Linked DNA regions of Homo sapiens: regions 2, 3 and 4 are each linked to region 1. The links come from fine-mapping of genetic effects on gene expression. A gene starts in region 1. Each other region holds a variant in brackets. All regions are shown on one strand. Distances are from middle to middle. Region 1 holds the start of PGM2 (phosphoglucomutase 2). Region 2 has its middle 33 kb from the start of PGM2. Region 3 has its middle 43 kb from the start of PGM2. Region 4 overlaps PGM2 (phosphoglucomutase 2).

Region 1 (8,116 bases):
AGAATTATAAAAAACATGGTACCTGTGTAGTCTGGATGATGGTCAAGTCATTCATACGAGAAATTCCAGGTCCCATAGCAGCTCGGAGGCCAGCTGTCCCAAACTCCATTCGGGCCCCAAAACATTTTCGTAGTTCTTCTTTATTACCTTCTGCTATTAGTCGTTTCACTGCCTCCAAAGTTAAGGAATTCTGAAAAACAAAAATGTATAGACACAGCCAGACAAGTGAATGAAAAATCAGAAATGTAAAAAAATTCACAATCATTCTAATCTATAGAAAATATATATATATGTATATATATATATGTAGACCTTTCAATTTTCTGATGCTTTTGAAATCTGAAATATGAAGTCAGTTTGACATTATAATGTAAGTGTTCTTTTCTTTCCTGTCAAGGTAAGCACCTTTGGAGAAATCAAAGTAGAGATTTTAGCATATGAGTCTAACCCCCAGAATGGAATCCCAGAATACCACTTGCCAACTCTAGGTGCTTGCGCAGATTATTCCAGTTCTCAAATTCTGTTTCCCTATTTGCAAAATGGGAATAATCTAGAACCTCCCTTACACGATTTTTAAGGTTTTAAGGTGGTTTACTTCAAATTAATGTAAAATATCTTTCTCTACCTGGCATTTAGTTGTGATTAAATGTCCATTTTTTTCCCTAATGCCCTCAAATTTTCCAGAGTGATAGATTACACAACTTAAGTCAAAACCTTACTTTTGTAATGTTTTATAATTCATACCAGGCATTCACATACCTGGTCAAGTTTGAATATTGTAACATCTCCAAGAAGTAGACAAATAACAGAAACCCAATTTTATAGATGGGGAAGCCTCAGAGATTGGGTGACTTGCTTAAATTGCAAGATAAACATTAATCTAGTGCCTTTTCTATAACATTAACTGCTTCAAATAGACGCTAACATGATTCATTTAAGTTCATTATACATTGCCCTATTTTTTTTTTGTATGGTAGTTGCAGAAAATGTTATGGTTGGAGAAAAATAATGACAATCACATTAGTTTCATATGAGACTTTTAAGTTATGAATTCAGGAAAACAACAGAGGAAGGACTTTATATTCCTGTTTTACAGTCATTATCCATTTAGATGAGCACTCACGCAGGACGTGGCCATTTAATTAAACTTTGAAATACTACTGCAATAAAACCTTGGCTTTCTGGAATTAAGCCCACATTTCCAGATTGTGGCAGATTCAATGGGAATCAAGTAAACCCCATCTTTTTTGGTGAAAAACAGCAGATGCTAATTACAGAACACAGTCTTACCTATCAGATTGTCAGGTGCCCCAAAGAAAGGCTCAGATCAGGTACATAAAAGAGGCTCATAAAAGAGCCTCAATAAATATTAGTGGAGTGAATCAGAAAACATGGACTTCACTGCCACACTCAATATCGAGTGATCCTCCCTTGTTCATAGTGTAGGTCTGGAAAATCTTAATTGGTCTTTGATATCTATGAAAGACTAAGTAGCCTGAGAGAAACAAAGGAGACAGACAGGTAAGAATGACAAGTCAAGAGTACAGCAGGATCAGAATCAGCCCTGGCAGTGAGCAAAACTGACAGCAGAGAAAAGAGCAGGGATGAAGGCACGGTGGAAAGACAGAGGGCACCTGCCAGGGCGCCTTGCCAGTCGCCGGGGGTAGTCTGACTAGAGGGCTGCAATGCTTTTAGCTGGTGGGAGGTTCACTGGAGAATGAATGGGCTTCTTCTCAGGTGCCAGTCTCAAAGCAAAGAAGAAATTAACAGAGGATAGAACATGAGAAGTGATTAAAAAAAAAAAAGGACATCTCATCTCTACCCAGAGAAATACAATTTTTCTATACACAGATGCAACACTGTGTAGAAATTAGATTGTTTTCTTCTTCTTCTTAGAGAAAGTGCATTATGAACTCTGACTTCAAAAGAATTCTGTACTCTGCAAGCTACAAGTTATCAGAAATGGAAACATTTTTCTTCCCTTGTGAATCACAAGGTTATCTTCCCAGGAAAAGAAAAACGCCCCCAAGGAGTTGCCAATAGCATCCTGGAAATGGGATTTGCTGACATTTTATTTGTAGGGGCCAGAGAATGGTAAATAAAGACAAAGACCTGACCCCTACTGACCTTGTAATCTTCTTTGTTCATTCAAGTATTTCAGTGACCTACTATGTGTCATGCACTATGCCTATGCCAGGCACTACAAACCAAGGTAGTGAGAATAGAGAGGCCTGGCCACATAATTTATGGAGGTCCAGTGCACAATGAAAGTGGGTGACCTCTTGTTTTACCAGTAAGACTTTCAAGACAGGACAGCAGGACATTAAAACAACAGTGGGCCCTTCAAGGAGCGCGAGTCCTGTGAGACTGCAGGGGTCTCTCGCCCCTGAAGTCGGCCCTGGAGACAGACATTAAACAAACCTACAAACAAGTGTTTTTGGAGTTTTTTGTTTTTACCATTTGTAGTAAGAGCTATAAAGGAAAATAACAGACTGTTTAGAGTGAATATTAGGGATAAATAATTTAACGCTTCGGAGCCAAGGAAGGACTGACTCTCTACGTAAGCCACATTTAAGTTCAGGCACAAAATATGAGTCACAACGGGAGAAACAAGTTCAGCAGGAGAGCAGCGAGGGACATTCCGAGAAAACCTAACAGCAAGCAGAACAGGTCGAAAGGGCGAGACGCAAGTTTATAGAGAGGAGAGGGAGTGATGTCCAGAGCTGGGTTCCTGATTCTAAGAAACGGAATGAAGAGAGAGAAAACCGTGCTGTGTCCCAGGTGTGCCTCCCTGGCAGTCAAAGTTCTAAGGGGGACTCCTGAAGCCAGGCGGGCCCACCCGGGAGGACAACCCACGTTTGTAACCAAGCCCTCGGGATGGGAGGACCGGACCAGAACGCTGCTCTGCAAAGGTCTCAGCGGCCAAAGGAATACGCGGGACGGAGCGATTCTGGGTCCATGGGGATGCACAGCCGACTACCGACGACGAGCCAGCGGTCTGAGTGACAGTAAGGCGTGCGCCCCTCAACTAGACAGCGTCCAGGGTCTGGCCGCGCTTACACCACCCTGGCTCGCTCCTCTACTCCGAACTTGCAGTCCGGCCGGCCGGATGGCTGGTTTCGTCCGGGGACAAGCCTTCCCGGCCTAACTCTGAACGTGCCGCATGCCGGCCAGGTCGAAGGAAGCCTAGCAGCGGCCGTACGCTCCTGGGTCTTCCCGGGGGAGAAGCGGGATGCACTGGGCGGGAAGGCAGCTCAGGCAGAGCAAGCAGCGCCGCGCCTGGAGAGGGCAGAGCACCCGGCCCCGCTCCAGGCGCTCCCCGCCTGCTGGTGCCCCTCACCTTGTCCCAGCGCAGCCACTGGGCGGTCTCCTGGTCCAGCCGGGCGTCCTCGCCTAGACCGCTGCCTTCTGGAGCCGCCATCGCTGAGCTTGTGCTACCGCTGCAGAGGGAAGCAGGCGGTGAGATCTGCCTTCCGGCCCGGCCCCAAGACGTGGAGGCGGAGGCGGGGGCGGGGAGAGCCGCGGCGGAGCCAGTCGGTCCGGGGGAAAGTGACGCGCGCCGCGGCGGGCACGCCTCCTTGCCGTTTGCGGGTGCGCTGCAGGGGGTGGGAGTGAGCGAGGAGGAATTGCGGGGCTAGGGTGGGTTGCTGGAACCTGGCACGTGTGAGAAGGGTTTGCCATCGTCTCTGATGCATCCAGGCTACAGCCAGCCGTGAGTTCCTGCTGCGCGCCAGGCACATGTCAGATGCTGGGATACCAGGAAGTGCACCCAGATAGGGGCCTGAAGACTATGTAGAAACTCAGAGGGTCAAGAACAGCCAGAAAAAAATCTTGAAAAAGAAAAGCAAAGTAGGAAGACCAGTGGAACATAAGATAGAGACCAGAAACAAAAATACACGTGTATGGACAATTTATTTCAGAGGCGGGGCTGCAGAGCACAGGAAGGAACTATTTTTGGTTAATGGTGCTCGGTCAAAGGGATATCCACGTAGGGAAAAGAAAAAAGGGAACTTGGCCCCCTACCTCCCATCACACACAGCTCTGAACTCCAGATCAATTGTATCTCTAAGTGCGAAAGGTAGTGTAGCAGGAGGAGCCGCAGACAAAACTCCTCAGACACCGGATTAAAGAAGGAAGAGGTTTTTATTCGGCCGGGAGCGTCGGCAGACTCGCGTCTTAAGAGCCGAGCTCCCTGAAAAAGAAATTCCTAGCCATTTTAAGGGCTTACAACGCTAAGGGGTCTGTCTACGTGAAAGGGTCATGATAGATCAAGTAAGCGTGAGGAACGTGACTGGGGGCTACATACATCAGCTAACAGAACAAGAAGTTTTACAGTGCTTTCTCATACGATGTCTGGAATTTACGGATAACGCCAGTAGTTTTGGTCAGGGGTTAATATTATTATTATTATTTTAACCACCAGGGCCAGGTGGTGGCGCCAAGGTCGTCTAGCTATTTATCTTACTTCTGTTTTTTTCCAACTTTTTGCTTTCTCTCTTTTCTCCTGTCTTATAAACTAGGGAAAAGGGGAGGTGGGGGAGAAGCTGGGAAGGACAGCAGAAATGGTGGTCTCTTTCCATAGTAGCGTGAAACTTAGGGAAACTAACATAGGAGCACATCTTCCTGACGCTGGTATCACCAAGCCATAAAGAAGATGCATACCCATAAGCATAAAAAAGCACGGGCAAGAATATTTCTAGCAGCATTATTTGTAAAAGCCTCAAACTGGAAACAACCCAGATGACCATCGACAATACAATGGATAAATACTTGGTAGTATATCCATACCAATTCATATAAATAAATCATGGCACATTGATAGAGCAATGCAGGTGAACTACTGTTATACACAACATCATGAATGAATCTCACAAACACTGAGTGACAGAGTTCAAACACCCACCCCCATACCCCGTCACCCCAAAATACTGCATCATTCATCTGTAGTCCCAGCTATTTCGTGGTGGGGGAGCTGGAGGGAGTCCTGAGGAGGGAGGATCGCTTGAGCCTGGGAGGTCGAGGCTGCAGTGAGCCCTGATTGTGCCACTGTTCTCCAGCCTGGGAGACAGAGGGAGACCCTGAAAAAAAAAAAAAAAAAAACACTGAAATATATAAAATTATAGGTAAAGGAAACAAATCAGTGATTTTCAAGAGCTGGGGGTTGGGGGAGGGGTTGACTACCTAGGGCACAAGGGAATTTGAGGGAGTTGTGGAACTGTTCCGTATCTTGATTGAGTTTGGGGTTTACTTTTATCAAAACTTATAGAACTGTACGATATAAAGGGTAAAATTCACTGTATGTAAGTTATATCTCTTTTTTTTAAGTTTTAAGATTAAAAACTAAAAAGGAGGCAAAACTAACCTATGGATGTCAGCAGAGTGGTAGCTTTGGGAAGGAGGGAAAGTGCCTTCTGGGGTTCCGGGACTGTTCTGTTTCTTGACCTGGACGATGGTCAACAGGTGTGTTGACTTTGTAATATTCACTAAGCTGCAATCTTATGAGTTGTGCATTTTCCGTATGTTCTTCAACTTTATTTTATTATTATTTTTTGAGACACAGTGTCGCTCTGTCACCCAGGCTGGAGTGCAGTGGTGTGATCTCGGCTCACTGTAACCTCTGCCTCCTGGGTTCAAGAGATTCTCATGCCTCAGCCTCCTGAGTAGCTGGGATTACAGGGGCGTGCCACCATGCCCGGCTTATTTATTTATTTATTTATTTGAGACACAGTCTTGCTCTGTCACCCAGGCTGGAGTGCAATGGTGGGATCTCAGCTCACTGCAACCTCCATCTCCTGGGTTCAAGTGATTATCCTGCCTCAGCCTCCTGAGTAGCTGGGATTATATGTGTGAGCCACCAGGCCCAGACTTTTTTTTTTTTTTTTTGTATTTTTAGTAGAGAACGGATTTCGCCATGTTGGCCAGGCTGGTCATGAACTCCTGACCTCAAGTGATCTGCCCACTTCAGCCTCCCAAAGTGTTGGGATTACAGGGATGAGCCACCGCGCCCGGCTAGTGTGTTCTTCAATTTTAAAAAGAAAAAATATATATCCAGGATCTGTAATATCTGTTTAGTGTCATGGGAAAGGCATACTAATCATGTAATCACGGCAGTTAATACGTAATTACAAACTGATAAAATGCTGGAAGGAAAGCAGAGAGATGTCATGAGGCTGCAGGTTAACAGAGGCCACCTCAGTCAGGAAGCTTGCCTGAGCACTGGAAGCTTAAGAGAGATGTGAGGGAAGGATGTAGTTAATGTGAGAGTGTGGTCCTTCCCCTGACTGCAAAACCTGAGAGGCTGGAGCACAGAGAAGAAGAGAAGGACAGTCTGCCTCAGTTTCCCCAAATGTTAGGTGGTCTGCAGGTCCACCACACTCAGGCTATCTCTTTTCTCTGCACCAGATAAACCTTCTTCTCAGTCATGCTCTGGAAAAAATTGCAGGACATGGAGAATCACAGACCCAGGCAGATCTCACTCACCCTTGTTTTTATCTCAAATGCCAGTTTTCCCAGATGAGTCTGTGCAGCCTCCAGCCTTCTGCCAAGGTAGGACGGGAGCTGGTGGGTCTCTAAATATCCAGCAGTTCTGGGCCTCAGAGTTCACATCTGTCCTTCCGTGATAGGGATGGTTGCAGCTGAGTCTCTACTATGGTTCAAAACATGTGGGGAGTGGTGTCTAAGGAAGTTATTTTGGCACCTTTTTTTTTTCTTTGAGATGGAGTCTCATTCTGTTACCCAGGCTGGAATGCAATGGCGTGATCTTGGCTCACTGCGACCTCTGCCTCCTGGGTTCAAGTGATTCTCCTACCTCAGCCTCCTGAGTAGCTGGGACTACAGGTGTGTGCCACCACACCCAGCTAATTTTTGTATTTTTAGTAGAGACGGGGTTTCACTATGTTGGCCAGGCTGGTCTTGAACTCGTGACCTCATGATCTACCCACCTCGGCCCTCCAAAGTGCTGGTATTACAGGCGTGAGCCACCACACCTGGCCAGGCACCTTTTATTTTATTAGAAATTGTGGGCCCAAGATGATATCCAATCAGAAATATTTTAACTTCATTTGAGACACCAAGAAGCAGATTTTTCAATATTCCTTTATGGAAACAAGGAAATAAAGCAAGTGTAGTTTCCAAGTAGAGAGGAACTTTTAACTAGTAAGTTGCCAAATGTAAATAAATTCTCTTATCTTACTGAGAAGGGCACCAAGATTTTAATTACTGCGTTGAAAAACAATGCACGCAGTCACACTCTATTCCTTCCATCTGCTTCTCATGTGAAGCAGACGGTTATGTCAGGGACTTTTCTGGGGTTGCCTGTAGCAAAGATGCTGACATTGGAGGTTCTGACAGTGATGCTGCAGAGACCTGAGGTTGATAATTTCTTACATATGACCCCACCATTATCATTTTATGTCTGTGGAAACCCACATAGAATAGTAGATTGAAGAAGGGTTCTCAGGGAATAAGTCAGGCCTTCTTGTTTTGTAAACAAGGAAATGGAGACACTCGAAATTTAAGAGCCTTTCTCCAAGACATACGACTGGTTAATGACAGAGCCAGGATTGTCACTCTGGATCTCCTGATATCCCAGTCAAACGTTCAGTCCCTCTCCTGTTTCACTCAGCCCATTTCTACACATATCCATTTCAAAGGAAGTTCCATGAACTCTGGCAACCTGTTTCCATGTGATAATAGCCTGCTCTTGATGAAAAACAAATACTAACCATGTTTGATATCGATGATGTTAGGTGATGCTTAAAATAACTTAATTTGTTTGTTCATGCTCTCTTGCTGCCTAGGAACGCTTTCACATGAGTGTCCCAATTTCCTTGGAAGTCTTCCCAATGCCCTCAAATACCTTGTCAGCAATTCTGTCAGTCCTTTTGTATCCAGTCCAGAAAAAGTTCTTACAAAACTTTTTATTATGGAGTTTTAATTATTTACAAAATTGATCCTTATGTAACCACCACGCAGCTCAACAATGATCAATTCATGGCCAATCTTGTTTCATCCAGCCACTTCCCCTTCCTGTGTTAGTTGGAGGAAGATACCAGATATCATATCATTTCACTTATACATATTTTGGTATGTATCTCTGAAACATAAAAACATTTGA
Region 2 (8,116 bases), 32 kb after region 1:
GACTGATTAATCCTTTCTTGCCCTCATTGTACACTTGACACTATAGGATATTTGCTTATTGCCCAGCTAACCTTGTTATGTCATCATACAGGAAATAAATGAAAGAAAGCTTAATGGAGGGGCCATGTAGAGGTCAAGGAGAACCAAGAGTGATAAAGCACTTCCAGGCTACACTGTGGGGGGCCACTGTCAGCCCTGGGCCTGGAAAAGCCAGGAACAGAAGAGCTGGTTGTAGTTCTGGAAGCAGGCTGCTTCTCAGCAGTTGTGGCTTTAGGGAAGTGCAGCCATTGTTAAGCCTTAGCAGGCATGAAGGAAGCCAGGGCAATGCTTCACTTTCCTCTTCTGCCGCCCTTCCTCTCCTGCTACCCTTCCTCTCCTCTTGTGCTTCCTAGTGGCTGAGCCCAACTGAAGCTGGAAGGCAAGGGAGCCCTGTTGATACTTTCCAGAAAAGTCAGCTTCCAGGAGCCACTGGGCAAGGTGGCGAAGGGCAGAGAATAGATCTAGAGGGGCAAAGAACATCCCACACCCAGCTCCTAAGGAACTGTGAGATTCTTACAAACAGAGTTCCTTTCTTAATGCTTTTTGTATCTTCAGCGTGCAGCAAAGAACACATAATGGATGTTAGTTGAATAAACGAATGAATGAACAAATAAATGGGGAGAACAAAAATGCTTGCACTTAAATTTTTTAAAAAATGTATAATGTCCACATATCCTTCATTTGCCCTGGAGACAGTGAAACTTCCTACTGGAAATGAGAGCTCTCACGGACTCCAGGTAGTCAGTGCTTTATGAGCCCATTGCATCCCAGGCCTCATCCATCCTTCATCACGCATTAGCAGTTGCTCTTCTCGGCTGGGGTCATTCCTTGCCAGGAGCTACCATGTCTTCCAGTGTAGATCAGCCTTTCCAGGCTATAGTGTTGTTTCTGAAGCTCTTCAAAAAGTCAAAGGGCCTCCACTGATGCCCGCTTGCCTGCCGCCCCTTATCCTAGACCTCCTTGACCTTTTCCTTGATAGCTGTTGAATTGCACTAAAACTTGCATTCCCACATTCAGGCTGATATTCCTTGTTTCTTTACTGCTGGTCCAGCACTATCCATTACTCCAGTTTTGTCAGCCAATGGATGAAAACTGTTTGCTAATAATGGCAGAAAAAGAGGGCACATAGAAATGCAATAGCTATTTCAGAACATCTCAACTCAGGGCAGGGCAGTAGCTCTCACTGGTCACACTGGGAGTACACTATGGAGTCTCTGACACTTCCCTCCTTACACAGGGTACTGTTCCGTATGATGTGTTCTTCTCCTTTTTGGCTTAGTAAAACATTTTAGAGATAAATAATGTATAATAAATAGATACCATCCCAGAGCTGTAGAAATAGGATACGTATTTACCGGCAAGAGGAAAACTTTTTTGGAAAGTTATAAAAACTCAAAGCAAATGCATAGTAGACATAGTTTTATTATGAAACGTCACTTTTTAAAAGATATAATGTTTCACATATTTTAAATCGATTTATTTGGAGACAAGTCTTTTGTCGTAGGATCAAGTATGCGTCTAAGAGGAAAATAGACGGTAGGTATATGGAAAGTGTGTTTTCTGTGGCTTTTCTGGTTGGCTTACTTGCTCTGTTTGCTCTAAAGACTATTAGGAGGAAAGTGATAACTAAGAAAACAGAAAGTTTGTTCAAAATGGTGTGGAGGAAAAAGGAAGGAAAGAAAATTTTTATCTGAAGAATGAGAGCCCCTTTAAATTATCAGGCCCCAAAAGGCACTGAATGAAACAGCAGTCACATCACTCCCCCTTGAACTAAATAATTATCTCTTGAAGCCACTTGCCATGTGGGCTCTAGACTAACTGATGCCAAGTAGCCATCAAATGCCATATGCCAGACACTATAACACTATATCCTGCAGTCCCACAGTGCATGGCCAATCATTAAGCAATGTTATTCTCTGAAAACCAGTGAGAATTCCTGTCAAAGAACTTTACATCAGACCATTCCTTGTTCCCTTTGCCTTTAGAAACCTGCTTACAACAAAAGCTAACAGAGCACTCCCCAGTGCAACTGGGAAGAGCGTCTCAACAGCTGTCTTCCCTTTGGCTCAAGTAAATTCTTTAAATTATATTTTGTGCCTCAGCCTCCTCCTTTTAGGTCAACAAGGACATCAACTAATACCTCCAGGTGTGTGCAGCTTTAGTATTCACATAAATAAGATTTTTTAAAGCCTTAATTTTTAGCAACCGTCACTAATCATTAAGCCCATTCACATTTTCTAAATCGAGTGTGTTACTGAAGGTCACAGATCAAGTTTCTTTTTGGTCATGAGTTAGTCATGTGAAATGTATCCAAGCTTACTTACAATTTTTATTGTAGGAAAGATTTTGTCATGGAAATGAGATGCTTTTCCTTCAATTCATGGTGGCCAAATTAGGACTCTGAGGACATAAAGTCATATGCTCATGTCATCTCAAATATATAAACTTATTATCTACATTTTACTCATGAATTCAATAGTCAATGGATGCCTTTTTGTTTGAGTCCTATACCTGGTGCTTCAGGATGTCATGAAAAGTGAGACATTGTCCCTGCCCAAAAGGAGCTTCTCTAGTTGGAGAGAAAATACATGTTTAATAGCTGTATGAACCAAAATGTGAGCGCCATCACCGACATGTATTTGACCAAGTACCACTTCCACTAAGTGGAAGAGAGCAGATACACAGAATTCTGAAGGGAGAGAGCTGATTGAAGACAAATTCAATAAAAACTTCCTTTTAAGAAGCAACAGAGCTCCAAAAAGGGAAGCATAGATGAGACTGGTTGAATTGGAAATAACAAGGATCAGTGGAGGAAATGATGAGTATAGGTACCCAGAGAACATGATTTCTCTGTGAAGCATAGAAGTGGTAAGCATGTAAGCCTGGAGGAAAGAGGTTAATTGCAGCAACACAATGATGGCCATCTAACTGTTATGGTCCCAACAATCATGTGCATGGATTAACACGTCTGTAGTCTTTCCTAGGTGAAATGCTAAGATTGGGATAGAGAAAAAAAAACAAAACTGGATAAATCATTTTACTTTAGAAAGGATGTTAAGGGATTATTTTGCTTTCAGACTAAAATAATGTGATATAAAAGAAGGTAGGTAAGAGAATATAGACAGATGATATCAAACATCTAGTTACTGTCATTGGGTTATAAAAATATGTTACTTTACAATGAAAGTAATTACAGGCACTGTTGAAGCCACCTTTGCAAAATTATGAAAGTAAGAGAAATCTGACATAGCTGACTCTAATCTTGCTTCTAGCTTCATAGGTTGACTGTATTTGCTCCTGGGAGTGGGCCAAGCTAACTTAGAGAGAAATTTAGTTTATAGTTTAAATGATAATAGCCTTTCTCCAAAACTAAGCTGTTCTTGTAAAACTAATGAAAGACCACCAAGTTAGGAGGATAAGAGGGGTTTGAATTAGAAATAATTACAAGGCATTATTCCGGAGGTCATAAGATTTGAAACTTCCCCAATTACTCTTGCAAATATAAATAACATCACTATTGTAGAAGCTAAGATTGCCTTTTGGAGATGTCCAGATGGCTCCACCTGGACCTGCCAACAAGTCCTGTCTCACCCCACCCCGGCTCCAGGAACTGACTCAGCACAGTAAGACAGCTTCAATTCCCTATGATTTCATCTCCTATCCAACCAATCAGCATGCCCCCTACCCTACTCCCCTGCCCATCAAACTGCATTTTAAAAACCCCTAATCTCCTATATGGCATGGCCAGCTCTGCCAATTAAACTCTTTCTTTACTGCAATGCTATGGTCTCAGTGAGTCAATTTTGTGTGAGCAGTGGGTGGTTGGGTGGTTACACTGCCAAAAAATAACACAGCAAATAAATTATAATTACATCAATACAACTAAGAGCTAAGCCTGAGTTTAAGGGGACTCAAAAGCACTCTACTTTTCTCTCTCTCTTTCTAAATTTTTACTGGTCTTTGAGTTTGAGCAGGTGTCTCAACCTCAGCACTACTGGCACTTTGGACAGGATAATTCTTTGATGTTTGAGACTGTCCTATTCACTGCAGAATGTTTAGGAGCATCCATGGCCTCTACCCACTAGATGACAGTAGAACCTCACCTACCCCCAACAGCCCAGTGGTGGCAACCAAAAATGTCTCCATACATTGCCAAATGTCCCCTGGCAGCAGGACACAAAATCACCTCTTGAGAACCACTAGTTTAGACAAAAGAATGTATTTTTTTTTTAAAGTAAGTACTGAATATATTTAACAAAAATCATACATGTGAGGTTCACACAGAGAGGAAAAACATATATATAAATACATAAAGTGACATTCCCTATGATTTCATCTCTGACCCAACAAATCAACATGCCCCCCAACCCTAATCCTTTGCCCACCAAACTATATTTGAGAAACCCCTAACCTCTGTGCCTTTGGGAAGACTGGGGCC[G/A]ATGGAAATCTTCTGTTTCACCCCTTGAAGGTTTGTTGAACATCCAACTCACAAAAGGAGATTAATAGGAGAAATGGGATACCAGTCTATTAATGTGCACACAGGGAAGAACCAGTGATTACCCCTGTATTAGTCCATTTTCACACTGCTGATGAAGAAATACCTTAGACTGGGCAATTTACAAAAGAAAGACGTTTATTGGACTTACCTTTGCCCTTCTCTGCCCTTCTCTGCCCTTCAATCCCCACGTGGCTGGGGAGGCCTCACAGTTATGAGAGAGGGTGAAAGGCAAGGAGGAGCTAGTCATGTCTTACATGGATGGTGGTAGGCAAAGAGAGAGAGAGAACTTGTGCAGGGAAACTCCCATTTGTAAAACCAACAGATCTCGTGAGACTTTTCATTATCATGAGAACAGCATGGGAAATATCCACCCCCATAATTCGATTAACTCCCACTGGGTCCCTCCCATACTACATGGGAATTGTGGGAGTTACAATTCAAGATGAGATTTAGGTGCGGACACAGCCAAACCATATCATTCCACCCCTGGCCCCTCCAAAATCTCATGTCCTCACATTTCAAAATCAGTCAGGCCTTCCCAACAGTCCCCCGAAGTCTTAACTCATTTCGGCATTAACTAAAAAGTCCACAATCCAAAGTCTCATCTGAGACAAGGCAAGTCCTTTCTGCCTATGAGCCTGTAAAATCAAAAGCAGGTTAGTGACTTTCTAGATACAATGGAGTATAGGCATTGGGTAAATACAGCCATTCCAAATGGGAAAAACTGGCCAAAACCAAGGGCCTACAGGCCCCATGCAAGTCCAAAATCCAGCAAGGCAGTCAAATCTTAAAGCTCCAAAATGATATCCTTTGACTCCATGTCTGACATCCATGTCATGCTGACACAAGAGGTGGGTTCCCATCATATTGGGCAGCTCCATGCCTGTGGCTTTGCAGGGTACAGCCTCCCTCCCAGCTGCATTCACGGGCTGGTGTTGAGTGTCTGTGGCTTTTCCAAGCACATGGTGCAAACTGTAAGTGGATCTATCATTCTGGGGTCTGGAGGATGGTGGCCCTCTTCTCACAGCCTCACTAGGTGGTGCACCAGTAAGGACTCTGTGTGGGGGTTCTGACACCATATTTCCCTTCTGCACTGCATTCACCATGAGATGCTGACCCTGCAGCAACCTTCTGCTTGGGCATCCAGGCATTTCCATACATCCTCTGAAATCTAGGTGGAGGTTCCCAAACCCAGTTATTGACTTCTGTGCACGGGTAGGCTCAACACCACATGGAAGCTGGCAAGGTTGAAGGCTTGCACCTTCTGAAGCCATGGCCTGAGCTCTACATTGGCACATTTCATCCATGGCTGGAGTGGCTGGGACGCAGGGCACCAAGTCCCTAGGCTGCACACAGCAAGGGGACCCTGGGTCCAGCCACGAAACCACTTTTTCCTCATAGCCCTCTGGGCCTCCTTCTTGGCTGCCATGAAGACCTCTGACATGCCCTGGAGACATTTTCCTCATTGTCTTGGGGATTAATCTTCAGCTCCTCGTTACTTACGCAAATTTCTGCAGCAGGCTTGAATTTCTCCTCAGAACATGGGATTTTCTTTTCTATCACATTATCAGGCTGCAAATTTTCTGAACTTTTATGCTCTGTTTCCCTTTCAAAACCGAATGCTGTTCACAGCACCCAAGTCACCTCTTGAATGCTTTGCTGCTAGAAATTTCTTCTATCAGATACCCTAAATCATCTCTCTCAAGTTCAAAGTTCCACAAATTGCTAGGGCAGGGGCAAAATGCCACCAGTCTCTTTGCTAAAACATAACAAGAGTCACCTTTGCTCCAGTTCCTAACAAGTTCCTTATTCCAGCTGAGACCACCTCAGCCTGGAATTCATTGTCCATATCATTATCAGCATTTTGGTCAAAGCCATTCAACCATTCAACAAGTCTCTAGGAAGTTCCAAACTTTCCCACATTTTCCCATCTTCTTCTCATCCCTCCAAACTGTTCCAACCTCTGTCTGTTACCCAGTTCCAAAGTTGCTTCCACATTTTTGGATATCTTTTTAGCAGTGCCCCACTCTGCTGGTACCAATTTGCTGTATTGGTCTATTTTGAAGCTGCTGATAAAGACCTACACGAGACTGGGTAATTTACAAAAGAAAGAGGTTTATTGGACTTACAGTTCCACTTGCCTAGGGAGGCCCCACAATCATGGCAGAACGTGAAAGGCACATCTCACATGGTGGCAGACAAGAGAAGAGAGAGCTTGTGTAGGGAAACTCCCTTTTTTAGTATCATCAGATCTCATGAGACTTATTCACTATTATGAGAACAGCACTGGAAGGACCCGCCCCCATGATTCAATAATCTCCCACCAGGTCCCTCCCACAACACATAGGAATTGTGGGAATTACAATTCAAGATGAGATTTGGGTGGGGAAACACACAAACCATATCACCCCCAAATCCCAGTGGGGCCCAGATACTTATATAGCCTTATTTCAGAGGCTGGGGGAGAGATGGGGAATATAGGTAATTCTGTTTAGGGGCAGTACATGATTACTAGGGAGAATGAATGGATGGGAGTGGAGATTAACTTGTAAATGGTTCTCTTTGAAAACAGAATGAGCCTGAGAGACAGTTATTATCTTGTGAAAGAGTCTGTTCAGGTGCGGTTACATTTGTGATCTTCTTTTCTGCAAAAGATAATGAGATAACAGGGAAGGAAAGGAAAAACCATTATTCTCCTTGGTGGGTCTGTCCTGTCTTTATGTAGCTAGAGAAAAAGTCTCTTCCAGCTTTTGCTGAGCTCTAAGGGACTTTAATTCATTCCTTACACCAAGGAGCCAAATTTTAAGGTGAAGTTCCCTGTACTCCCTCATTCATCAGGAAGTACATTCTCAATTATTCCTAGTAATCTCAATTATTGCTTGGTAGAGAACACACAGATTCATATTTCTGAGGAAGCCACTAACTGTCTTGAGCTTTTCCAAGCCAAGGTTGAGATGGTCTTGTCAGCCGACCTCTGCTGGCTGAACACACGAACTTTCTGAGCCCAGTGTGGTACAGATTCTCATGTTTTTACCTGGTATATGGCAGATGCACCTTACAACAATAATTTAAACATACCCTGAGAATGATTTTAGGGTCTAAGAAGCATGTGTGTTTGGAGTTCCAAGCTAAGGAATCCAGGAGTGGCCAACCCAGAGATTGAAGGGATTGAGGCCCTTTGTTTTGGGTTAAATGGAGGTTGCTGAGAGGAGGGTCCTAAGTGAAAATGCTGTATAAACTGCATGCTTTTTATAAACAGTAATGGTGCTACTGTCCAGCTTGCCACCACTGGGCCATTCCTGTATGGAGTTTCCCTGATAAACCCTATGTCTCATTCATTGTCTCCAGGTCTCTTATTTGCCCTCTAGGGTATGGTGCCATCCCTATCGGAGTCAATAGGGGCCTGGCATGACATCTGGTGAGCACTTCATGGCTGATCAAGCTCAGGGCAGGGTCTTAGGTGCAGCTGGTTGAGGCAGATGGCTTTTCTCTGGGGTTTAAGTATCATCTCAAAGTGGAGGTGCAAGATACTGGGAGCATGCTCAGTTGAATTGAAACCACCTTTGCAAAAATTATAAC
Region 3 (8,116 bases), 42 kb after region 1:
CCAACAGTCCCCCAAAGTCTTAACTCATTTCAACATTAACTCAAAAGTCCACAGTCCAAAGACTCATTTGAGACAAGGCAAGTCACTTCCTCCTATAAGCCTGTAAAATCAAAAGTAGGTTAGTTGCTTCCTAGATACAATGTGGGTACAGGCATTGGGTAAATACAGCCATTCCAAATGGGACAATTTGGCCAAAACAAAGGGGCTACAGGCCCCATGCAAGTCCGAAATCCAGCAGGGCAGTTAAATCTTAAAGATCCAAAATGATCTCCTTTGACTCCATGTCTCACATCCATGTCATGCTGATACAAGAGCGGGGTTCCCATGGTCTTGGGCAGTTCCACCCCTGTGGCTTCGCAGGGTACAGCCTCCCTCCCAGCTGCCTTCACAGGCTGGCATTGTCTGTGGCTTTTCCAGGTGCATGGTGCAAGCTGTCAGTGGACCTATCATTCTGGAGGATGTTGGTCCTCTTCTCACAGCTCCACGAGGTGGTGCCCCAGAAAGGACTCTGTGTGGGGACTCCAACCCCACTTTTCCCTTCTGCACTGCCCTAAGCAGAGGTTCTCCATGACAGCCCTGACCCAGCAGCAAACTACTGCCTGGACACCCAGGGGTTTCCATACATCCTCTGAAATCTAGGCAGAGGTTCCCAAACCCCAGTTCTTGACTTCTGTGCACTCGCAGGCTGAACACCATGTGGAAGCTGCCAAACTGCCATGTGGAAGCTTCAGAGGGTGTAAGCCTCTGAAGCCATGGCCCAAGCTCTATGGTGGCCCCTTTCAGCCATGGCTGGAGCGGCTGGGACGCAGGGCACCAAGTCCCTAGGCTGCACACAGCAGGCGGACCCTGCACCTGGCCCACAAAACCACTTTTTCCTCCTAGGCTTCTGGGCCTATGATGGGAGGGGCTGCCATGAAGACCTCTGACATGCCCTGGAGACATTTTCCCCATTGTCTTATGGATTAACATTCAGCTCCTCATTACTTATGCAAATTTTTGCAGCAGGCTTGAATTTCCTCTCAGAAAATGGGATTTTATTTTCTGTTGCATTGTCAGGCTGCAAATTTCTGAACTTTTATGCTCTGTTTCCCTTTTAAAACTCAATGCCTTTAACAACACCCAAGTCATATCTTGAATGCTTTGCTGCTTAGAAATTTCTTCCACCAGATACCCTAAATCATCTCTCTCAATTTCAAAGTTCCAGAAATCTCTAGGGCAAGGGCAAAATGCCCAGTCTCTGCTAAAACATAACAAGAGTCGCCTTTGCTCCATTTCTTAACAAGTCCCTCATCTCTATGTGAGACCAACTCAGCCTGGACCTTATTGTCCATGCCGCTATCAGGCTTTTGGTTAAAGCCATTCAACAAGTCTCAATGAAGTTCCAAACTTTCCCACATTTTCCTATCTTCTTCTGAGCCCTCCAAACTGTTCCAACCTCTGCCTGTTACCCAGTTCCAAAGTCACTTTCACATTTTTGGGTATCTTTTCAGCAGTGCCCCAGTCTATTGGTACCAATTTACTGTATTAGTCCATTTTCATGCTGCTGATAAAGACATACCTGAGACTGGGCAATTTACAAAAGAAAGAGGTTTATTGGACTTACAGTTCCATGTGGCTAAGGAAGCCTCACAATCATGGTGGAAGGCAAGGAGGAGCAAGTCACATCTTACAAGGATGGCAGCAGGCAAAGAGAGGAGCTTGTGAAAGGGAATTTCCCTTTTTGAAACCATCAGATCTCATGAGACTTATTCACGGTCATGAGAACATCATGGGAAAGATTTGCCCCCATGATTCAATTGCCTCCCACCGGGATCCTCTCACAACATGTGGGAATTCAAGATAAGATTTGGGTGGGGACACAGCCAAACCATATTAGTAGGGGATAAGCAAGATGGTGAAAAGTTGCATAATTTTCACCTTCCCTGGGACCTCCAAAATATCACAACAAAGAGTTCTTTGTTTGTTAGGAACATATTAGGCTGCAAATAATAGAATACTAGACTCATGGTCGCTTACATCAATGGGAGTTTATTTAAAATCAGAGCTATGTAGCAGTTGGCATGGATTCAGCTGTTCAACGATGCCATCAGGGACCCAGACACTGTCTATATTTCCACTTTACCATCCTTGTTCTGTTGGCTTTTGTGCTCATGCTTGCCACATTATGGTCTTAGGGTAGTTGCTATGGGCTCACACATTACGTTTATATTTCAAGGCAGGGAGAAGGAAAATGAGGAAAAAGGTACCAACAATGGCCATGTTCTTCTTTAAGAATTAACTAACTTAAAGATAGTTAGTTCTTTCCCAGAAATATCCTCACCAAGTTTCTACTTGCATCACGTGGCCTCCCTGAATATAAGGGATGAAAGGAAATAATTTAGCTTTTATATCTTCTATAATAGATGCAGGCAAGGGAGAAGGCATGGTGCTGGATCAACCAAGCCTATAATATCTGCCATATTTATGGAATTCATAAATGTGGGCTGTGTAGGAGCTAGTTTGGGAAATCAAAGAGAGTGATGAGTTTTCCACTGGGAGTTTGTCTGGTGTGAACAGATGCAGCTCTTGAGAAAGAAAGAGGTCACAGAGGAGAAGAATCCAGGGAAATGCAGCCCTTGAGAATGGACAGAATCCAGGTGAGAGCTTTTGGCTTCCACAGACTGCAGATTGGAAGGATGGGATGTGTCACAACACTGAGATTTCATGGTTGATGTCCAGCTTCTACTGATCTTTAGTTAATCACCAACCCCTGCTAATTCTTCCTCTCCTACAGTCTTCAAATTTGACACTTTCACGCAGTCCTTTCTTTAACATCACTACTAGTGAAGCAGGATATTTCCCTGACCCCTTCGAGGGACTTGTGACAGGTGTGCTTCATTTACTCAGCCTACCACTCTCAACTCTTCATGAGAGGGAGCACATGATCAAACGAGTGTGGCAACTGGAGTAGATGAGTGCTGGAATCAGCTCCTTTGGCACTGGTGGGATCACACTCCACTCACTCAGACCTGCTGCATTCCAGCCCTTGTAGGAGGGAGCAGACAGGTGAGAAGGTGCAGGAACTGGCTGGATGCTTTAGCGCCAGCAGGAGCAAACTCCATGCAGGCCCCACAGCAGCATCCAGGCAGGGGTGTCTGCAACCCCCAAAGCCCCAGAGGGAGTGTTACAGAGCTCTTTTAGCTCTGCCATCTTTGGATGGCTTAAGTGTTAACAGCTCAGTTAACAGCTCAGGCCCTTTGCCTTTTCATGTGAGGCAGCTGCCCTCCACCTGTGAAAGCAAAGGGACAGTGTGACAGCCTTTTGAATCCACGCTTGTGTCTCCCAAGCTCTTATCTGGCATCCGGGAAAAATGAAGTTGCATGAACGAATTGAAGGATGGTAAATGCAGGGGGATTTTATTGCCAATGAAAGTGACTCTTAGCAGGAAGGAGGGCTGAAAAGAGGATAGTGAGGGAAGGTAATCTTCCCCTGAGGTCCAGCTGTCTCTGGCCAGATTCTTCTCTGAAGTTACACCAACAAGTTGTCTCTCTGAAGACAAGCCACTTCTCTCCAACATCTAGCCATAGTTCCTGCCTACTGGCTGGAACTTTTATAGGCACAGGATGGGGTGGGGTGGGGCCATGGGTAGTTTAGAAAAAGGCAACATTTGAGTGGGAAAACAGGGATAAAACAGGGATAAAAATTCTCATTTTGGGCCACAGTTGCAGACTTTTTGGCTTGAGGATGGGGTTTCACTGGGGACCTGCCTGTTTGCCTAGAATTTCTCTGCCCCCGTCCCTATCACTAATGTCTCCCTTGCCATTCCTGAAATTTCCATAGATGTCTTGTCTGTCTGCCTTCAGTTTTTCTCCTTCTAGTCCATCCTCATTTCGCTTGTTTTTGTCTAGCAATTGCCCTGTACTTTAAAGGCTGCAAAATCACTTTCATGGGGAAAGAGTATAACTAATAAATGGCTGGAAAACAAAATGTCTTGGACCATGGTGAGAAATTAACAACAGAATTAGTCATCATCATGGATAGAGCTGGAGGTCATTATCCTTAGCAAAGTAATGCAGGAACAGAAAACCAAATACCGCATGTTCTCACTTATAAGTGGGAGCTAAATGATAAGGACACATAGAGGGGAACAACACACACTGGGGCCTATTGGAAGGTGGAAGGTGGGAGGAGGGAGAGGATGAAGAAAAATAACTAAGGGGTACTAGGCTTAACACCTGGGTGATGAAATAATCTGTACAACAAACTGCCCCCCGACT[T/G]CATGACACACATTTACCTGTGTAATAAACCTGCACATTCTGCACATGTACCCTTGAACTTAAAAGTTAAAAGAATTAGTCATTTTAATGCTTGGGTTGTGATGTCCCCTCCTTTGCTTCTGAGAGCTCACTACAGAAACACAGGCCCTTCAGCTTCAGGTCCTTGGCATGTAGTTTCTTTGGATTTTCAGATACCAAAGAGGGCCCATCCAGTAACTTATGGTGCACATTATTTGTAAAGTTCATATAGATAAGTCACATTCTCCAAAACAAGCAACAAAAATGTAATTATGTGAAAACATTTTTGAATAGTAACCATACATAGAAAACGTGTTTTAGAATATTTCATTGTTGTGGAAAGATGGTTAAATATCTTGTTAAGTGGAAAAAGTGGGCTCCAAAACAGCATGTATGATTTGAGTTTTACACATGTATGTGTGTGTGTGTGCATGCACGTGCACACGCATGCACACACACACACACGCAGAGAAAGAAGAGAATGAGAGAGGAATTTCACCCTAGGTGTTTCTTAGGCACCAACTTTAGAATTTAATTCCAGTAAGGTGTGACTCCATTATCTTGTTTAATCCATCCATTAAATACATCTGTTAATAGGTATTAAGGCTATAGCTGCTTAATATTAAAACATAACAGATTAAATACTGCCAGGAAGCAGAACTACTTGGAATTTTCCCTGTCTCCCAGGTTATTTTAAGATATTACTTTTGTTTCTTCTTTTATTCTAGTTGAGCAATTCCCAAAACTTCTTATATATAAGAAGCACTCTCCAGGGTTATAAACACAAAACTGTGTATACTGAATCTTATGAGTGATTTAAGGACAGTTCAGTGATAATTTGTAAGTTTCCCCTCCTTATTAGCTGATATGGTTTGGCTGTGTTCCCACCCAAATCCCCTCTTGATTTGTAGCACCTATAATTCCCATGTGTTGTGGGAGGGACCTGGTGGGAGATAATTGAATCATGGGGGTAGTTTCCCCCATACTGTCCTCATCATAGTGAATAAGTCTCATGAGATCTGATGATTTTATAAGGGGAAACCCCTTTTGCTTGGCTCTCATTCTCTCTTGCTTGCTGCCATGTAAAACATGCCTTTCTCTTTCTGCCATGATTGTAAAACCTCCCCAGCCACGTGAAACTGTGAGTTCATTAAACCTTTTTCTTTTTTTTTGAGATGGAGTTTTGCTCTTGTTGCTCAGGCTGGAGTGCGATGGTGCGATCTTGGCTCACCACAACCTCCACCTCCTGGGTTCAAGCAATTCTCCTGCCTCAGCCTCCTGAGTAGGTAGGATTACAGGCATGCACCACCACGTCCAGCTAATTTTGTATTTTTGGTAGAGATGGAGTTTCTCCATGTTGGTCAGGCTGGTCTTGAACTCCCGAACTCAGGTGATCCACCTGCCTCAGTCTCCCAAATTACTGGGATTACAGGTGTGAGCCACCGTGTCTGGCCAAACCTCTTTTTCTTTATAAATTACCCAGTCTTGGGTATGTGTTTATCAGCAGCATGAAAATGGACTAACACATTAGCTGACTTTGGAATCAAAGCTTGAGTCACATGCTTTCACCATACTTACACTATAAAGAAAAATCCAGATGGATATAACGCACACTAAAAAGTGGAGAGGATTTCTTCTTGGTAATGGAAAGTTTTTAAAAGTAAAAAAACTTTTACTTTATTCTTACCTGTATTTTTTACTTTTTCTATAGTGAAGCCCTATTAAATGATAAAAGTTCATGAACAATATTCAATTCACTTGTTCTCCCACGACCTACTTTGCAGACTGAAGATAGAGTTCATTATCAAAAGCAACCTGGGTGATTCTAGCAGTGAACCCCAACCTGAGCCAGCTCCTGGACTCACAGATCTGCTATTTTTCACTGCAAGACAGGAACTAGTAGGGTGACAGTATTGGGGATAAAGTAATCCAGCTGAGGCCGGGCGCAGTGGCTCACACCTGTAATCCCAGCACTTTGGGAGGCTGAGGCGGGCAGATCACAAGGTCAGGAGATCGAGACCATCCTGGCTAACACAGTGAAAACCCGTCTCTACTAAAAATACAAAAAATTAGCCAGGCGTGGTGGCGGGCGCCTGTAGTCCCAGCTGCTTGTGAGGCTGAGGCAAGAGAATGGTGTGAACCCAGGAGGCGGAGCTTGCAGTGAGCCGAGATCGCGCCACTGCACTCCAGCCTGGGAGACAGAGCGAGACTCCGTCTCAAAAGAAAAAAAAAAAAAAATTAATCCAGCCGAATTGAGGGATACACCAACTGACTCATTGTGTTACAATGCTAGTTCAGAAACTCCCAGGCTACCCTTGTTCTATCATTCTCTTTGGAATGATCAGTTTTGTGATTTGTACACAAATCATAGTCCTAATACAGTCTGTGTTTTGCTAACACAGTCCTAGTTTTAGCTAACCACACAGTATCATTTCTGCATAGAAGTAAGAATTCTCATTTTTCCAATGCTTAATTGATTCTTAAGGGAAGAGTACTTCATGTGATAGGATAATTTGGTTTAGATTTATCATGCTGAGCATCTGATAAGACAAATTAGTAACTCTGCCTGTTTGAAAGAATTTAGAAACACAACCAGTTTAGCCACCCCATGTTGTTCAGCCAGTATACAAACCCGTCTTATGTTCTTGGATTTTTCAGAACCTCTCCCTATAGAAAAAAACGCCCTTTTTCTTTGCTTGTTAAGTTCTTTTATCTTGGCACATGTGCTCAGAAATTGTAGGTAATATCTAAAAGGGTAAAGAAATATAAACAAAGCATCCTTCCAAACAAATCTTCATCAAGTAAAGTTTTATTTGATGTTGAGAAGTCTATTTGTCTAGCAGGAACAATGAAGATCAATGGCCCATCCGGGGGCACTCTCTCCCCAGGAAATTGCAGTGGTTTTCAGCCCAGCCTCTTTCTTCTCTTTGCCTGCGTCTCAGCTGGGACAGCTTTGAAAATCTAGAAGCAGCCATAAAAGGACCCACACAGGAAGTTTTCATATTCTACTGAGAAAGGGGACATAGTAAAAAACAGGTCATTTATTTTTACATGCTCCTTTGCCTTTTTCTCCTCTCCTGCTTATTGTCCCATCACAAAAATTGTGAAAAGGAGTAAAATCTTGTCACCTTAAGATCCACCTAAATGTAAAATGTAGAGCAATTGTAGTTACCACTGTTCTGTTCAGAAGCAAACAAGATAATTCACATATGTAAGGTAATATGGTTTGGCTGTGTCCCCACCGAAATCTCATCTTGAACTGTAGATCCCATAATCCCCCTGTGTTGTGGGATGGACTCAGTGGGTGGTAATTGAACCATGGGGGTGGTTATCTTCATGCTGTTCACATGATAGTAAGTGAGTTCTCACAAGATCTGATGGTTTTACAAGGGGTTTTTCCCCCCTTTACTCTGTATTTCTCCTGGCTGCCGCCATGTGAAGAAGGACGTGTTTGCTTCTCCTTCTGCCATGACTGTAAGTTTCCTGAGGCCTCCCCAGCCCTAAGGAACGTGAGTCCATTAAACCTCTTTCCTTTATAAATTACCCAGTCTCAGGTATATCTTTATTAGCAGCATGAGAACAGACTAATACATAAGGGATGTTGTACACATCAGGGACTATAAATCTGTACAGTTTATGTTAGCATGTAAGTGCACAAGCAGTGGTGTAGGTTCTTGGTTTTGTTGTGTGCTGTTTAGTTCAGCCTGATGAAAAATGATATCACTGCATTTGCATAGTGCACAAACTTTCTTTGAGCAAGAACTTCCTTTTCCCTTGGATGGGCCATGGGAGATACTACAAAGGACAAAACAAGCCTTGTGAACCTAGTGAGATGATAGACA
Region 4 (8,116 bases), 25 kb before region 1:
AATAAAGAAAATTAAGTAACTTTGTGTATTAGCTTTTACTTCCCTAGTTCTATTGAAGTTATTAAAGTTTTATTTAAACACATCATTTCACAAGATATTGACTTAAACAGATTAATACACCACAAAAAAAAACCTCAAACTAGATTATATTTACTGTTATAAAGTGAATCTTTGCAAAGAAAATTCCATAAGGAGTTTTTTTTGTTTTTTTTTTTTAAATAAAGCTTCCAGGCTGGGCGCGGTGGCTCATGCCTGTAATACCAGCACTTTGCACTTTGGGAGGCCGAGGAGGGCGGATCACATGAGGCCAGGAGTTGGAGACAAGCCTGGCCAACATGGCAAAACCCCGTCTCTACTAAAAATACAAAAATTAGCCAGGCATGGTGGCGGGTGCCTGTAATCTCAGCTACTCAGGAAGCTGATGCAGGAGAGTCACTTGAACCCGGGAGGTGGAGGTTGCAGTGAGCCGAGATTGCGCCACTGCACTCCAGCCTGGGTAACAGAGTGAAACTATGCCTCCAAAAAAGAAAAGAAAAAGAGAAAAAAAAGGAAGCTTCTGTAAGAAAAAATAAATGCCATATAAATTTACTGGTTAGAAAAGAAAAATGGTCTTGAGGAAATGGTATATTTATATTTGATAGGTCCCAAAACTCCATTAAAATAGAGGTACTTTGAATAGCATAAACACACGGGCAAAGAGACAAAGAGGAGGTAGCAGCTGATGGGGCTGCCAACCGATCGCACAAGTCAGAAAACAGATGGAGGCACAGAACTGGTCTGGTGGGACCCAGAGAATGAAATCTGAGTGCCTGCGGAAGGAGACATGGATGAGAACTGAGGCAAGGTGCTCTGCAAAATCCTGGCCAAGCTCAAGAACCAGAGGCACCAGGTACTGCAAAAGGCAGATGTGAGGCAGGGGTGGAAAGCAGGAACAGGGTTTGAAAGAAGTTCTTAGACCATCCCGGTTCCTTGCCCTGAGCCCACACCGTCACAGAACCACCTCTTCTCCATTTCTGCAGGAGATGGTTTAAATTCTCTGGAGATTAAATCAGAAACATTCAGGAGTTGGGGAACCTGGGCAGGGCATGATGAAAACAGAGGGATCAAGTAGAAGTCCTCAGGCTGACACCCCCAGCTCCGCCCCAGTCATGCCTCCAGGGCCTTGGCATCTCATCTTATCATCCTTGGGTAGGTGATTAAGGTCTCATTAAATCAGGGGGATCCCCTTATAAAGTTAACTTGCTACCAATATCCTCTGAGTGAAGTATGTCATTTGATCTGCATATGTACACAGAGCTTCCAATCAGTTCTTAGGTGCCCAAAGGAAAATTAAGGATCATCAGACTTTTGGGGAAAGACATCATGTAAAAGACAAAGTCCAAAACAAACAGAATAAAAAGAACTTGGTGGAAATAAAGAGAATGTAGCAGAAAAAGAAGACATATATTTTTAAAAAACTATAATTAGGTCTATAATCCTTAGAGAGGTAAGATATTGTTTACATTAAAAAAAAAAAAAAAAAAAAAAAGGAATATCACCCTGGGCAACACAGCAAGATCCTGTCTCTACTAAACTAAAAAACCTTAGCTGGGCATGGCGGCACACACCTGTAGTCCCAGCTACTCAGGAGGCTGAAGCAGGAGGATTGCTTGAGCCCAGGAGATCAAGGCTGCAGTGAGCTATGATCATGTCACTGCACTCCAGCTTGGGTGAAAGAGCAAGACACTGTTTCAACAGGACACTATTTTTAATAAATTAGTTATAACTGAAACAGCCAACAGAGGCACTGAAAGCTAAAGCTAAGGAAATCTCCCAGAAAAACAGAAGAAGAAAGAAAGAAACAAGAAAAGTAGAACATCAGTCTTGGAAAGCCAGCATCTAAGAGCTCTTCAAGAAACAAAGAACTGAAAATGCAGGGGAGGTGATTATTTTAAAAAATAACCAATTAGCTCCCTTTCCTGATACATAATCAAGAAAACTTCTCAGAACTAAAATAAATGATTCTACAGACCAAGTATCCAGAAACATGAATAAAAAGGGACCCATACTATAGCATATCACTGTGAAATTTTAGAACCTGAAGTTTAGAGAAAAGTTCCTAAAATCTTCCCAGAGGAAAAAAACAAACAAAACAAGTTGCATGGAAAGGACTGAATAAGTATGGCATCAATAACCTTACATACAGCATACAGTAGGCCTTAACTATCTGCTGAAAAAGGAAGGATTGGAGGCTCAATAGCAATGCTGGAAGCCCAACAATAATGGAGCAATGCTTTCAAAACTGTGAGTCAGTGAAGTGTGAGGACAGAATAAGACATTTTCGGACTTAAATGCCACCAAAAACTTACCACCCAATTACTTGTTCTCAGAAAGCTATTAGAGGATGTGATCTAGGAAAATAAATATAGAAAGAGGAAGCCATGAGGTCTAGGAGCAAGGGACTCAATCCTGGAGAAGGGCATTCCCAGGATGACAGCTGTGCACCCAACCAGGAGGGCGGCCATTGGACATGGACCAGGAAAACCCTACTGAGAGGCATTTGAAGGATTTGGGAAAAACTGCTGACAGGACATAGAAATCCAGGCAAATGGAAGAACAAAGCAACTATTACTACATGAATTAAGGCAGGCGCAGTAGCTTACGCCTGTAATCCCAGTACTTTGGGAGGCTAAGGCAGGAGGATCACTTGAGACCTGCCTGGGAAACCTAGGGAGAGACTCGTCCCTCCAAAAAAAAAAAAAAAAAAAAAAAAAAGAGCTGGGCATGATGGCATACCCTTGGTCCTAGCTACTCAGGAGGGTGAGGTGGGAGGATCACTTGAACCTGGGAGGTCAAAGCTACAGGGAGCTGTGATCATGCCATTCACTCCAGCCTAAGTGACTAAGTCACACAGCAAGACCCTGTCTCCAAAAAAAAAGAAAA[C/A]AAACAAACAAAAGGTACAGGAAATACAATTCTCTATACAAATTAGGGAAACCTAATCAAAATACACTACTTAGCTAGCAGGCAACAGCAGTTACTAGTCATAATAACAAAAGCACGGAATCTGATTTAACCAAAAGCTGTGGCATAAACGTACTGTGAGGATGGGGAGAAGAGAATTATTGAATGTAGAAAGCGTAAGAACTAAATCTTTATCTCAAAAATAGAAAGTCAACAAATTGTAAAACTGGTATATCAAAACATCACTATATGAGCACATGATTTACAAATCTAGTCTTGGTGACATGGCAATGAGGTGGCAGGGGTGGGACTGCCACGTTTCATCGTAAGCGTTTTCATACTATTTCTATTTTAAAAATATGCTGTGTGCAGATGAAAATGAAAAATAGAACAAAGAAAATATCAAAGAACGTGCCTAACATCTCATAAGGATATTCTTAACTTTCCTCCCCCAACCCCAACATAGAAAGCAACACTCTTCTGCTACCTTTGTGTCTTCTTTTGTCTCCAGTGAAAGATCTGCTTGGTGTAAAGAATGCAAACTCAGGCTTTACAGCCAACAGCTCCAATACACTCAGAGAACAGAGTACACTAACTAGAAAACAAACAGTGGTTCTCAAAGTGAGGACCAGTTGCATCAGTACCACCTGGGACCTTGTTAGAAATGAACATTTTTGGCTCCTACCCCAGACCTACTGAATCGGAAAGTCCAGGTGTGGGCTCCAGCACTCTGTTTCCCCAGCCTTCTTGGTTACTGATGCTCCTGCAAGTGTGAGAACTCCTGACAGGGAGAGAATGCTGGATCCTGAGATAGAAAACCCAGATTCTCCCTGGACCACCACCAACTAAGCTCTGTGTCCACAGACAGGTTCCACACTTCTGATCACTTATTGCCTAAGGTGCGAAATGACCACACAGGCTTTGATGACTAGTTCCTCTTTTTTTTTTTTTTTTTTTGAGATGAAGTCTTGCTCTGTCACCCAGGCTAGAGTGTAGTGGTGCAATCTCAGCTCACTGCAACTTCTGCCTCCTGGGTTCAAGCAGTTCTCCTGCTTCACGCTCCTGAGTAGCTGGGATTATAGGTATGAGCCACCACACCTGGCTAATTTTTGTATTTTTAGTAGAGATGGGGTTTCACCATGTTGGCCAGGCTGGTCTTGAACTCCTGACCTCAAGTGATCCACCTGCCTCGGCCTCCCAAAGTGCTGGGATTACAGGTGTGAGCCACCGCTCCCAGCCTAGTAGAGTCTCTTTCAGTTCTAGCCTGCGGTTTTTAACTTACCACGCCCAGCTAATTTTTGTATTTTTTAATAGAGACCGGGTTTTGCCGTGTTGGCCAGGCTGGTCTCGAACTCCTGATCTCAAGTGATTTGCCCACCTCAACCTCCCAAAGTGCTGGAATTATAGGCATGAGCCACCACATCCGGCTTCCATATATTTTTTATAGCTTATTTATAATCACGCCTAAGTGCCTAAAATCAGCTTCAATTAATTGTATGGTTAAATAATTTATTCAAATTATTTTAAAAGGTAAATAGAAAAGAGGTTAGTTGAAAAGAGAAGACATTACTTACAGCTTTTTTATCAGGTTGGCTATCATCATAGCCAGTTGTAAGGTCCCTAATGGCAGAAATTTCAAATTTGCCACAAGCTTTTGGATAATTATTTTTTCCATCGTAGTTTCTGAGGTTTTCAAATAATTTCTTAATGGTTTCTTGATCATGGCAGATAAAATAGGAAGCTTTAGTAATATGGTAGCCATACCTATCAAACAAATACAAATTCATGCACATGAGGAACAAATAATTTTGTAGGGTGGACACAGAACATGTACCAACCAGTGTATTCTAAAATAAATATGGCTGGGTGTGGTGGGTCACGCCTGTAATCCCAGCACTTTGTGAGGCCGAGGCGGGCAGATCACCTGAGGTCAGGAGTATGAGACCAACCTGGCCAACATTGAGAAACCTCGTCTTTACTAAAAATACAAAAATTAGCCGGGTATGGTGACAGGCACCTGTAGTCCCAGCTACTCCAGAGGGCTGCAGCAGGAGAATCGCTTGAACCCAGGAGGTGGAGGATTCAGTGAGCCAAGATTGTGCCATTGCACTCTAGCCTGGGCAACGAGAGACTCCATCTCAAAAAATAAAATAAAATAAAATAAATAATAAAATAAATGTAACAGCCAAAACTGACGCCAAAGGAATAATTTTTAAAAGACCATTAAAACAGAGGTCTAGGCCAGGCACAGTGGCTCACGCCTGTAATCCCAGCACTTTGGGAGGCCAAGGTGGGTGGATCACCTGAGGTTAGGCGTTTGAGACCAGCCTGGCCAATATGGTGAAACCCCTAACTCTACTAAAAGTACAAAAATCAGCCAGGTGTGGGGACACCTATAATCCCAGTTACCCGGGAGGCTGAGGTAGGAGAATTGCTTGAACCCAGGAGGCAGAGGTTGCAGTAAGCCGAGATCACACCACTGCACTCCAGCCTGGTGACAGAGCAAGACCCCGTCTCAAAAAAAAAAAAAAAAAAAAAAAAAAGAGGTCCAACAATCTACCCCAGGGATCACCAAATGACTGCCTGGTCTTCCGCCTGCATTTGCACAGAGAGCCAGGTCACACGCATTTCTGTATTCTCTTTGGATGCTTACGCACTACACTGGCAAGGCAGAGTTGAGTAAGTGCTACAAAAAAATGAATAGATGTATTATGAAGACATTCAATCTTTTTTGATACTGGACACTTAAAATCACATTCTTTCATGTTGTCATTTGTTAAGAATTAATGCGATCGGGAATAGTAATTACTAACTTGTTACATATCAAAAGGAAAAGGTGATCTCTTTAGTTTTTTTAAATTTTTTTTTTTTTTTTTTGAGACAGAGTTTAGCTCTTGTCACCCAGGCTGGAGTGCAATGGCGCGATCTCGGCTCACTGCAACCTCTGCCTCCCAGGTTCAAGCAATTCTCCTGCCTCAGCCTCCTGAGTAGCTGGGATTACAGGTGCCCACCACCATAACCAGCTAATTTTTGTATGTTTAGTGGAGACGGGGTTTCACCATGTTGGACAGGCTGGTCTCGAACTCCTGACCTCAGGTGATCCACCCGCCTCAGCCTCCCAAAGTGCTGGGATTACAGGCATGAGCCACTGTGCCCAGCCTTATTTAATTTTTATAAGAAATAGAATTCATCACCAAAATAAGAGCATTAGAAAGGATATTAGTATCTCATGCATAAGTATATAATAGAACATTTCAAAATATTATTTCAATCCAACAGAGTCAATAACAACTTACTCCACATAAATGGCCTTTAGTTGCTGAGACAAAGACAAATTCTTGGTTGCTAGGAAGCTAGCCAACTCTGCACTTATGACAGCGGCACTGACTCCATCTTTGTCCAGAACAAAAGGGCAGCACATGTATCCTGCAGAAACACACGTCATACATACATCTATACAATACTGTGTCAAACCACATATGAGTATGAATCCTGGCTATTGCATATTAGAGGTTGTACAGTGTTGCGTGTATGCACATTTCTCATTAATACCTTATGTTTAGGAATTTAGCCCAGTGCCTAGCCCATAGCAGGCCTTCAAGAAGTATTTGCTGAAGAACCTGCAAGATTTTCCCTCCTGGCCACATGGTGCTCAATCACTAGAGTCATGAAACTCCTTCCAGCTCATGAAATTGTTTCTAATTGTCCTAGTCAATACATATCTCTTTCTTCTCTGAATCCCAATAGTATTTGTTAGTTACATTATTCATTTTGACATCTGGCCTCTACTCTTGTGTGTGATTACTTAACTAAATCTATCTAAGCTGCTGTAGGCTAAGGTCAGTGCCATCCATTTCTTTTAGAGTCACTGAGTAATAGACATGCAATTAATACTTGATAAATGAAAGAAAATCTTTCTTAAAATAAAAAGCTACGGAAAGACAAGTCTGCCAAATCTGACAATAAAAGAGCAGAACCTGAGCGATTATGCTTTGATTAGTTAAATCATGTGTTAGTGTTGCAGAGAATATACAAATGAATATAAATAAATCTAATGCATAATAGTTTTTACTAAATTAATAGCTAAAAGCGTTTGGTACAATGTGAGTTTCAAATTTCTATAGCTAGTTCTCCTTTCTGTTCATTTATATTGACAGTTTAGGACAAGGGTTTTTCTGTCATTCTGGCTGGACCTGGGTCATCCTTTTGGGTGAGTATCATTCTGATGACAGCAGCAAACCATGCCTTCCTTCTCCTTTCCTCTGGCTAGACCGTAGCATAGATCCTCATTAGCACTTTTGGAGGAGGAGGGACATTAAATACCACAGTGTTTAGGCCTGGATATTAACCACCACAGTGGAGGAAACATCACAACTCCCAAAATACATGTACCGGCAGCCAAGCATACAATGTCACTGTTTTGAGTCATCCAGGCAAAGGATTCTGACATGAATGACTTAGTTGTTTTTAAGACATTCCTTTTGGCTGTAAATCATCTGAGATGTCAATTTTGGAGTAGGACAGTTCGACATTCAACCTGAGTGCTGGAGAGGCAAAATAAACCGTGTTTCACTGTGGATCTTTGAATCCCAATCCAAACCTTTTCCTTTTGCCTTGCAGCCAATTCCTTAATGTTCATGATCACTTCTTACCAATAGCTTCTTCAAATGCAAATAAAACAGTTTTCCCCTGGTCTATTAGCTGTTTGGCTCTGTTTCCCATCCACTTAAAGCCAGTTAATGTTTCCTAAAGGGATAATCCAAAAGAGAAAGACATGCCTTAGATCTTCTACAGAGCAGATGAAAGGAAAATGAGTGAGTCCCAGAAACACCCTACCTCAAAATGAAAACCTTCCTTTAAGGCAATGGCCCGCAAGATTTTGGAGGAGACGGTGCTGGACAACATGTACGTGTCTTTGAGAGCACTGCGATCCTGGTTCTTCTCTTTCCAAGATGTAAAAAGCCACCAGCCCAGGAGGGCCCCCAACTCATTGCCTGAAAACACCCTCCATTCACCACTGAAAGAAAAAAAAAACAACAACCACCATTCATTTCCATAATCTTAAGGAAGACTCTAAAGTGTCATGGGGATAAAACAATTTAGCAAACAAAGCATCTAAGTATTTTCTGCAAGGCTGTTCTTGTTATTCATCATCTTTAAATAACTGGTCAGAAAT

The links. PIP is the estimated chance that this variant, and not a neighbour inherited with it, causes the effect.
Region 2: its variant is fine-mapped to the expression of PGM2 in monocytes after R848 (Quach 2016, PIP 0.95).
Region 3: its variant is fine-mapped to the expression of PGM2 in whole blood (INTERVAL, PIP above 0.99).
Region 4: its variant is fine-mapped to the expression of PGM2 in whole blood (TOPMed, PIP above 0.99).

What each region holds. Positions count from the first base shown.
Region 1 is chr4:37,822,038-37,830,153 of GRCh38, reverse strand. PGM2 (phosphoglucomutase 2) reads right to left here and starts at 3,468. Exons shown (of 14, transcript NM_018290.4): 1 at 3,341-3,468; 2 at 23-190. The coding sequence starts at 3,421. RefSeq lists enhancers at 2,796-3,295, 3,296-3,797, 4,830-4,999 and a silencer at 3,286-3,585.
Region 2 is chr4:37,789,762-37,797,877 of GRCh38, reverse strand. No RefSeq gene overlaps it. Among named protein-coding and RNA genes, the nearest start is that of PGM2, 33 kb to the left of the region's middle. The variant G/A (reference allele first, on the strand shown) is at 4,478.
Region 3 is chr4:37,780,044-37,788,159 of GRCh38, reverse strand. No RefSeq gene overlaps it. Among named protein-coding and RNA genes, the nearest start is that of PGM2, 43 kb to the left of the region's middle. RefSeq lists an enhancer at 318-817. The variant T/G (reference allele first, on the strand shown) is at 4,257.
Region 4 is chr4:37,846,772-37,854,887 of GRCh38, reverse strand. It overlaps PGM2 (phosphoglucomutase 2), which reads right to left. Exons shown (of 14, transcript NM_018290.4): 9 at 7,777-7,957; 10 at 7,593-7,686; 11 at 6,237-6,366; 12 at 4,515-4,704. Among named protein-coding and RNA genes, the nearest start is that of PGM2, 24 kb to the right of the region's middle. The variant C/A (reference allele first, on the strand shown) is at 2,923.